3 linked regions of the Homo sapiens genome follow. The protein of the gene in region 1 interacts with the protein of each later gene in a pairwise test. Each region holds a gene or a part of one and is shown in the gene's direction. Other genes may lie near its edges. The genes, in order: MTAP, FOLH1 and RELB.

Evidence for each region.
Region 2: the proteins of MTAP (region 1) and FOLH1 interact in a two-hybrid assay, tested with the Homo sapiens proteins (one large-scale study listed by BioGRID and IntAct).
Region 3: the proteins of MTAP (region 1) and RELB interact in a two-hybrid assay, tested with the Homo sapiens proteins (one large-scale study listed by BioGRID and IntAct).

The regions. Positions count from the first base shown.
Region 1 is NC_000009.12:21,809,017-21,812,675, forward strand, and holds part of MTAP (S-methyl-5'-thioadenosine phosphorylase), read left to right. Parts: intron 1-2,472; exon of another isoform or gene 2,473-3,346; intron 3,347-3,659. UniProt on the Homo sapiens protein: Catalyzes the reversible phosphorylation of S-methyl-5'-thioadenosine (MTA) to adenine and 5-methylthioribose-1-phosphate. Involved in the breakdown of MTA, a major by-product of polyamine biosynthesis.
Region 2 is NC_000011.10:49,146,990-49,149,653, reverse strand, and holds part of FOLH1 (glutamate carboxypeptidase 2), read left to right. Parts: intron 1-922; coding exon 923-1,015; intron 1,016-2,664. UniProt on the Homo sapiens protein: Has both folate hydrolase and N-acetylated-alpha-linked-acidic dipeptidase (NAALADase) activity. Has a preference for tri-alpha-glutamate peptides. In the intestine, required for the uptake of folate.
Region 3 is NC_000019.10:45,032,308-45,035,580, forward strand, and holds part of RELB (transcription factor RelB), read left to right. Parts: intron 1-226; coding exon 227-442; intron 443-1,936; coding exon 1,937-2,005; intron 2,006-2,143; coding exon 2,144-2,221; intron 2,222-3,273.

The DNA.
Region 1 (3,659 bases):
CTCTTGCTTATGGGGAAAACCTATTTCCTTGCCTTTTTCAGCTTCTGGAGGCACCAGCACTTCTTGGCCCATGGCCCCACATCATGTCCCCTTTTCTCTCCCTCTGCTTCTATCATTATATCACTTTCTTCCTCATTTGACCTTCTTGCCTCCTTGTGATTTCATTTAGGTCCCACCCAGGTAATCTAGGATAATCTCCCCATCTCAAGATCCTGGATTTAATCATATTTGAGGTAACATTCCCAGGTTCTGGGAATTAGGATGTAGCTAGGATCTCTTGGGACAGGGGCATTGTTCAGCTTGCCACACTCAGCCCACGTTTTAAAAATTTATGGTCTAGGGGCCGGGCGCGGTGGCTCATGCCTGTAATCCCAGCACTTTGGGAGGCTGAGGCGGGCGGATCACAAGATCCGAAGATTGAGACCATCCTGGCTAACATGGTGAAACCCCGTCTCTACTAAAAATACAAAAAATTAGCCGGGCACGGTGGCAGCCTCCTGTCATCCCAGCTACTTGGGAGACTAAGGCAGGAGAATGGTGTGAAACTGGGAGGCGGAGCTTGCAGTGAGCCGAGATCGCACCACTGCACTCCAGCCTGGGCGACAGAGTGAGACTCCGTCTCAAAAAAAAAAAAAAGAAAGAAATTTATGGTCTAGGCCCTAGAGCAGGTTGCTTAGTTCTGAGGGCACTTTAGAACCACCTGCGGAGCTTTAAAAACAAACTACGCCTTGCCCAACTAATCAGAATCCCTGAGGCCTGGGCTTTGGTATTGAAAGCTAGAGAAGGGGAATGTCCTAGTATCCAGCAGCTGGTTCAGGAGGGTGGGTGGCTCCCACTGTTGCTCCACAGGCAAAGGAGAGCTCTAACAAAGTATGCATTAGGGAGAGTCCTCCTCTAAAAATATCTGGCCATTTCAGCAGGTGAAGTGTGTCTTTAAGAGGGTGTCTGCCCTTTAGACTGATATCTGTACTTCTCAAGGGGCATTTGCTCAAATAAAAACCATGGATGTTTTGAGCGCTTGCATCATCCAAGCTTCTCTGACTAAAATATAGAGTCACTGTATTAGTTCGCTAGGCCTGCTATAACAAAGCACTACAGAATGGGTAGCTTATGCAACAGAAGCATTATCTCCTCACAGCGCTGGAGGTTAGAAGTCCAAGATCAAGGTGAGATCAAGGTGGATTTCTTGTAAGGTCAGTCTGCTTGGCTTGTACATGGCAATGTTCTCCATTTGTCTTCACAGGGTCTTCCCTCTGTATGTGGTTATATCCCAATCTCTTGTAAGGACAACAGTTTTCTTAGTCTGTTTTCTGTTGCTATAACAGAATACCTGAGACAGGGTAATTTATAAAGAGAAGAGGTTTATTTAAAAGAAATGAAAGGGAGACGAGGGAGATAGGAAAAGGAAACAAAAAAGAGACAAACTTTGCTTCATAACAACCCACTCTCACTGGAACTAATCCAACCCAATGAGAGCAAGAACACCCTCCCCTGGGACTGCATGAATCCCTTAATTGGGGTGGATTATTACCATGGCTCATGACTCAAACTCCTCTTAAAGGTACTACCTCCCAGCATCACTATATTTGGGGACCAAGCCTCAACATGAGTTTTGAAGATGACCACATTCAAACCATAACATGAGGTATACTGCATTAGGGCCCATCCCAGTGACCTCATTTGATCTGAATTACCTCTTTAAAAACGGCAAATACAGTCACATTCTGAGGTACTGAGAGTTGGAACTTCAACCTATGAACTTAGGGGAGATACAATTCCATCCATAACCATTACCTACAAGGGTGGCCTACAGAGGGGGTGTCTTGTCAGAGATGGAGACCCCAGCTATCCCTGTGGACCCTATTGCAGGTTTTTAACAGTCCTCACAGCCTGAGACAGTTGGTTGCTCCCTCTCATACAGCTAGGCTTCCAGGATTTTGCAAGGCCCTGACAGGCCTCAAAGCCATGTCAGCCTAATAATGAGGGCCTCCGTCTGCTGTGCTTGCCAAAATTGTTATGGCAACCAGAGCTAAAGGACTGCAGTGCTCAGATCGGGCTGTGCCAGCTCCAGCTCTGGCTCGCTTACCTTATCGTGAGCTTGAGGCACTCAGAGGCAGCCCATCTCCCTGGCATGAGCTAGTCTCAACCGCTTGGGGTGATGGTATTTTGAAAATGCCATTATAGAGTGCTGGGTTCCTTACGGCAGTGTGCCCAGGCCTCAAAGTGATGGTGAATGGTTTCTGGGACAAAGAAGGGTTGGTAAAATCTCCTGTAGCCAGGTACTAGAAGAAATAGACAGAGTAGGGGTTACTATGCACCCTTTCCACATTGCTAGAAGTAACTGTTCTGACCAGGTGAACTGGTATTTGGATAAATGCTTTCACAGTCTCAGAGAAGTCAGACCCTTGGATTGATTTGCTCTTGAACAAAAAAATTTTTTTTTTCACTGTGAAAATGCTTTCTTTGGGGTGTCTTTAGAACATGTGATGTCAAGACACAACAGCAAGCGCACATACACTAAGACATGGCTGTCATAGAACAGATTGTGCGTGAATAAAGGGTTCACACCACTTCCACCCTTTACACAGTAACAGAAGGCTCTAGGCCACCTACCTCCTCCTTGGCTCACTCAAACTCTTCCTCCTCAGCCGTGGCCTCCTGCTACTGCTGGTACTCAGACACCAGGTCGTTCATGTTGCTTTCAGCCTCGGTGAATTCCATCTCATCCATGCCCTCGCCCGTGTACCAGTACAGGAAAGCTTTGCACCGAAGTATACCTGTGAACTGCTCTGAGATGCCCTTGATCAGATCCTAGATAGCAGTGTTGTTGCCAGTGAAGGTGGCCGGACATCTTTAGCCCTGAGGGTGGGAAGTCACACACAGCTGTTTTTATATCTTGGGGGATCCAACCAACAAAGTAGCTGCTGTTCATATTTTGGGCATTAAGCATGTGCATGTCCACCTCCTTCATGGACATGTGGCCCCTGAACATGGCAGCTACCATTACGTAGCAACCATGGCAGAGGTTGCAGGCAGCCATCATATTCTTGGCATCAAAGAACTGCCAAGTGGGCTCACGCACCATGAGGGCCCAGTACTGCTGGTTGTCCCAGCTGGTCAGCAGGGGGAAGCCATACATGAAGTGCAGGTGGGGGAACAGGACCATGTTTGCGGCCAGCTTCTGCAAGTCAGCATTGAGTTGGCCAGGGAAATGCAGACAGATGGTGACCCCACTCATGGCTGCAGACACCAGGTGGTTCAAGTCACTGTAGGTAGGTGTGGGCAGCTTTAGGGTTCTGAGGCAGATGTCATAGAGAGCTTTATTTATTATCATTGCAGAAGGTCTAGTTTTGAGAAGTTTGGTTTGATGGTCAGTCCGTGGAAAAGTGTGGCATGAGCCACTAGCTTTTAAAATCTGTCAAGGACCTTGATTGACTCCCTATTTCAGAACTCTATCTTGTGTAATAAAGAAGTCCTGGCTGGGCAGAAATTCCATCTCAGGTCTTGAACACATTTCCTACACAGTCTAGAATTAACTGGACTGAGGACTGACGCTTCCTGCCCAGGAGGCCTGGCAAGGTCTTGTCATTGTTTCCTGAGGGTGGATGAGGTCATTAAGAAAGAGTTTTCCTCCCCTCTGAGATGATTCACTCAGATAC
Region 2 (2,664 bases), on another chromosome or scaffold:
CAAGCTTGAATCTGAGAAACTCAGATGTAGCTAATGAAAAACTAATGAAAAATATAAAGTAAGAGAATTATAGAAACTTAAAAAAAAACTGTTACATTCCATTTGGACTACTAGCCATGTGTTCCACAAACATTTTCTATTTTATATAATTGCCTATCTCATTGTCTTAACAACATGAAGACTAAGATGTGAAAGGGGGATTAAGCATGTGGTAAGAGTTATACTGGGGGCAGCTAACCCAAGGGAGATCAGATGTGGCTTCAGATTCCACATACACAGCTACATTTCCTCACTGAGGCAGAGCAAGTTAATCCAGAAAGTCATATCAGGCTCCAAGAACGCTGTACTTAAACCATTCTGAAAATCACTTGAAACGATATAATTTTAAGTAACTTTTAGACTTAAATCTGGATCATTATACCGAGAGATCAATTTAATTTGTTTGGTAGTTTGTTCATTTTCACCCTGTTAATTCCACAGAGGACTCGTCATTTACATTAGGTATACCTCCCAATGCTATCCTTCCCCCCTCACCCCACCCCACGACAGGCCCTGGTGTGTGATGTTCCCCACCCTGTGTCCAAGTGTTCTCATTGTTCAATTCCCACCTATGAGTGAGATAACGGGTGCAGCACACCAACATGGCACATGTATACATGTGTAACAAACCTGCACGTTGTGCACATGTACCCTCGAACTTAAAAGTATAATAATAAAAAAAAATTCCACAAAGGAGGAGGGCCGACTTTTCACATACATGTGTCCTCCTTGCAGGACTTGAGTATGCACAAATTTTGGTGTAGAGGGTGGTCCTGAAACCAATCCCCGGAGATAACTAAATTCAGTTTTGTTCTGAAATTTTTATTTTCTGAGTAGAAACATATTTTCATGAAGTTATAATTATATTCATTTTCTTTCTCAGCCCAATAGTATTAAGAATGATGAATGATCAACTCATGTTTCTGGAAAGAGCATTTATTGATCCATTAGGGTTACCAGACAGGCCTTTTTATAGGTAAGAAAAGAAAATATGACTCCTTTCTGTAATATCACTTTTTCTTCTAATTATTTTTATTTTTTTCACTGTGGAAAAAATATTGTAGTTGATTTCTTGCAAGCAAATAGAAAATTTCAAAATATATGTAGTAAGTGATAGTTGTATTGTTTCTTCATATAATGTAATATGATTTTTGCATATCTTTATTTTGAGTATCTTTGTTCTGATTATAAAAGAATATAAATTTATTTTAGAAAATATAGAAGATCCAGAAAGCCATGACAAAAAATAAAAATCTCCCCAATTTTATCAGAAAAATATAAAATCATTGTTATATTCTGGTGTGTATAATTTTAGCTCCTTTTCTATTTTAAATATATTTTTACTTATGTATACACAGAACCCAAACATCTCTCTATATATAATGTATATAATAAATATATATTTATTTATTCTTTTCCCTAATGTTGATATTTAGATATTTTATTTCCTCCTAAATCCTGACAGTTGGATTTTTTTCTGCCAAACATTGACTGTCCCCAGGTTGATCTTCTAAATATTGCAGAATGAGATAGATCATTGGACAGCCAGAAATGGCCCTAACTTTCTTTCTAGGGATTATCAAAGGGTCGGGCTTGGGAGTAAGAGCATCTTCCAAGCAGGTTGACTGGATCAGATCACCAGTAGCAGCATATTTTTATCCATCCCCCACCCCCCCTTTTTTTCCTAAGAGACAGGGTCCCACTCTGTCTCCCAGGCTAGAGTTCAGTTGTGCAATTTTAGCTCACTGCAGCCTCAGACTTTTGGGCTCAACCAATCTTCCTGCAGCAGCCTCCAAAGAAGCTAGGACTACAGTCACATGCCACCATGCCCAGCTAATATTTGTACGTTCATTTGTAGCGACAGGGTGTCCCTATGTTGCGCAGGCTCGTCTAGAACTCCTGGCCTCAAGCAATCCTCCCACCTTGGCCTCCCTAATATATGGGATTACAGGCATGAGCTACTGCTTCTGGCCTTATTTACATCTTTACTATGGAGTTTGTCCTTCTCTTCTGTGGGCTATTACATGAACTGTCATAGCCCATTCTATAAAACATTTTCTGCCTTGGTCACATGGAACATTACAAAATTGTTTTTGATGATTCTTCAAACTCTATATTAAGTATTCTAACATGGTAGTGTGACTTTTTAAAAAAAGACAAAAAAAAAACCACAATAGAGGGTTGGCTGATCACAAGCAAGACTGTAATGATTACAATTGTGCTATAATATAGGGGGTAGCATGATATATTAAAAAATCAGCAGTTACTTGTCGTGTGCCTTGAGACAAATCATTTAGTTACTTGATCTCTCAGACCTCAGTTTCCTTCTCTGTGAAATACTAATATCAACTGTGTAGAGTTTATTTCTAAACATCAGAAAAATTGCAAGTAAACATTAAATACCAAGAATGATTGCTGTGGTTACTATCATCATTGTTAGTTTTGTAGCACTGAACCACTTTAATTTATTTGTTTGAAATAAAAATATAATTAATTACTATAGATTTCATATAATAGTCTTCAGAGATGATTGAACTTGGAAGTTCAGTTGACAAGTGGCTTGTTCAAATTGTTATAGGAATATGCAATCCAGGAATTGCAGAGTGCTCTTGTGTTTCTCTTGTA
Region 3 (3,273 bases), on another chromosome or scaffold:
ATTCCGGAGGCTGAGGCAGGAGAATTGCTTGAACCCGGGAGGCAGAGGTTGCAGTGAGCTGAGATCGCGCCATTGCACTCCAGCCTGGGCAACAGAGCAAGACTCTCAAAAAAAAAAAATTTTAAAAAGGGGGAATATTAGTCTTGATTTTAGGGGAGGCTGGGCAAGTTGGGAGCACAGTGGTCCAGATGTCCTGGCTTAGCTGATGTCCCCCGTTTCCTGCCAGAGGACATATCAGTGGTGTTCAGCAGGGCCTCCTGGGAAGGTCGGGCTGACTTCTCCCAGGCCGACGTGCACCGCCAGATTGCCATTGTGTTCAAGACGCCGCCCTACGAGGACCTGGAGATTGTCGAGCCCGTGACAGTCAACGTCTTCCTGCAGCGGCTCACCGATGGGGTCTGCAGCGAGCCATTGCCTTTCACGTACCTGCCTCGCGACCATGGTAACTACAGCAACCCAGGGTGACCCACCACCTCGGAGACTAGGTCTTTGGCCTTGGGGAGACCCCAGTGGGGATGGGAAAGAGGCAGAACTAGAATGCAGGCTCAGAGCTACAAAGACAGTGTTCAGATCCTGGCTCTGCTGCTTACTGGTTGTGTGACCTTGGCCTCTCTGAGCCTCATTCTTCTGTGCAAAATGGAAATAATAGTAGCTGTCCTGTGACATTTGGAGAGTATTTAATCTTTCCTCCCCTCAGCATCCTGCACATGCCCGGGCCTGTGCTCGGTATTGCTAGAGACACAGCAGTGACCAGCACGGCCCCTAGCTGTGTCCTCATGAGGCTTATAGTCCTGAGGATAGGGGACAGCCTGTCCCTACAGAGTGATGACCAGAGTGGGCAGGACTGGAATGAAGTGCTCAAGGGCTCACATTGCCCAGAGGGGGTACCTGACCCAGCTGTAGGTGTCAGGGAATGCTTCTTGGAGGAGGGGACAGCTGAGCTGAGGACAGGAGGATGACTAAGCAGGGAAGTTTTCTAGGGAAATAGTGAGAGTGGAGGAAGAGTGCTTTAAACAGCTGGAACAGCAGGTGCAAAGGTCCTGAGGCCGGATTGTGCCTGGGGTGCTCCAGGAACAACAAAGAGGCCAGTGTGTAGGCCGGGCGCAGTGGCTCATGCCTGTAATCACAGCACTGTGGGAGGCTGAGGCAGGCGGATCACCTGAGGTTAGGAGTTCGAGACCAGCCTGAACAACATGGCGAAACCCCGTCTCTACTAAAAATACAAAAATTAGCCGGGCGTGGTGGTGGGCGCCTATAGTCCCAGCTACTCGGGAGGCTGAGGCAGGAGAATTGCTTGAACCCGGGAGGCAGAGGTTGCAGTGAGCCAAGATTGTGCCATTGCACTCCAGCCTGGGCAACAGAGCAAGACTCACTACAGGCACCCGCCACCATGCCCGGCTAATTTTAGTATTTTTAGTAGAGACCGGGTTTCGCCGTGTTGGTCAGGCTGGTCTCGGACTCCTGACCTCAGGTGATCCGCCCACTTCAGCCTCCCAAAGTGCTGGGATTGCAGGAGTGAGCCACCACGCCCAGCCAAGACTCCATCTTTAAAAAAAAAAAAAATAGGCCTGGCACAGCAGCTCACACCTGTAATCCCAACACTTCGGGAGGCCAAGGCAGGCAGATCACTTGAGGTCAGGAGTTCAAGACCAGACTGGCCAACATATAGTGAAATCCCATCTCTACTAAAAAAATACAAAAATTAGCTGGGCGTGGTGGCGCACACCTGTAATCCCTCCTACTTGGGAAGCTGAGGCAGGAGAATCACTTGAACCTGGCAGGCAGAGGTTGCAGTGAGCCAAGACCGTGCCACTGCACTCCAGCCTGGTCAACAGAGCAAGACTGTCTCTAAAAATAAATAAATAAATAAATAAATAAAGGAATTAATTATTATTGATGAATTACTTCTTGTGTGTCCCTGGTATCTCCTTAACAGACAGCTACGGCGTGGACAAGAAGCGGAAACGGGGGATGCCCGACGTCCTTGGGGAGCTGAACAGCTCTGGTGTGTGCCCTCTGCCCCTTTCCACCCCCATCCCCAGGTTCTGGGGAGGGGACAGCTGACCCCACTGCCCTGTCCCACCCCAGGCTGGGGAGGAAGGGCTGTCGGGGAACAGGGGTCCTCATCTCTGCCTTCCCTCAGACCCCCATGGCATCGAGAGCAAACGGCGGAAGAAAAAGCCGGCCATCCTGGACCACTTCCTGCCCAACCACGGCTCAGGTGGGTCCCAGCTACACATAAGCCCCTGTCCCCTGGGTGGGCAGAGGGTAAGTGGCAGCCCTGCTTTTCTGGCCTCTTCACGCCCTCCAAGAGCAGCCACAAGGCGAGTCACTCAGCACTTAGCCAGCAACATAGAGTAGAAAGAATGAGGGCTTTGGAGACAGAATGGAAGTTCTGATCTCTTCTGGGCCATTTCCTTGCTATGTGAACTTCATTAAGTTGTTCTACCTCTCAGAGCCTCAGGGACTCCTTTGAAAAGGCCCAGTACATACTTAGCTCAGTGGTGTTTTAAAATTTGATCTATTTCTTCTTTCTTTTTTTTTTTTTTTGGAGATGGAGTCTCGCTCTGTCGCCCAGACTGCAGTGCAGTGGCATGATCTCAGCTCACTGCAACTTCTGCCTCCTGAGTTCAAGCGATTCTCCTGCTTCAGGCTCCCAAGTAGCTGGGACTAAAGGCATACACCACCACACCTGGCTAATTTTTGTATTTTTTAGTAGAGACGGTGTTTTACCACATTGGCCAGGCTGGTCCTGAACTCCTGACCTCAGGTGATCTGCTTGCCTCAGCCTCCCAAAGTGCTGGGATTACAGGCATGAGCCACTGCATCCCACCTATGATCACATTTAACTGCATTTACAGCAAAACCCAAAATAACAGGGGCTTCAACAGGATAGAACGTTATTTCTTGTCTCACATACATAGTCTGTAGGGACTGAAAGTGGCTCATGCCTGTAATCTCAGCACTTTGGGAGGCTGAGGCAGGTGGACTGCTTCAGTCCAGGAGTTTGAGACCAGCCTGGCCAACGTGGTAAAACCCTGTTTCTACTAAAAATACAAAAATTAGCCGAGTGTGGTGGTGCACACCTGTAGTCCCAGCTACTTGGAGGCTGAGGCAGACAAATCACTTGAACCCAGGAGGTGAAGGTTGCAGTGAGCCAAGATTGCACCACTGCACTTTAGCCTGAGCAACAGAATGAGACCCTTCTCAAAACAACAACAACAACAACAACAAAACAGGCCTGGCACTGTGGCTTACGCCTGTAATCCCAGC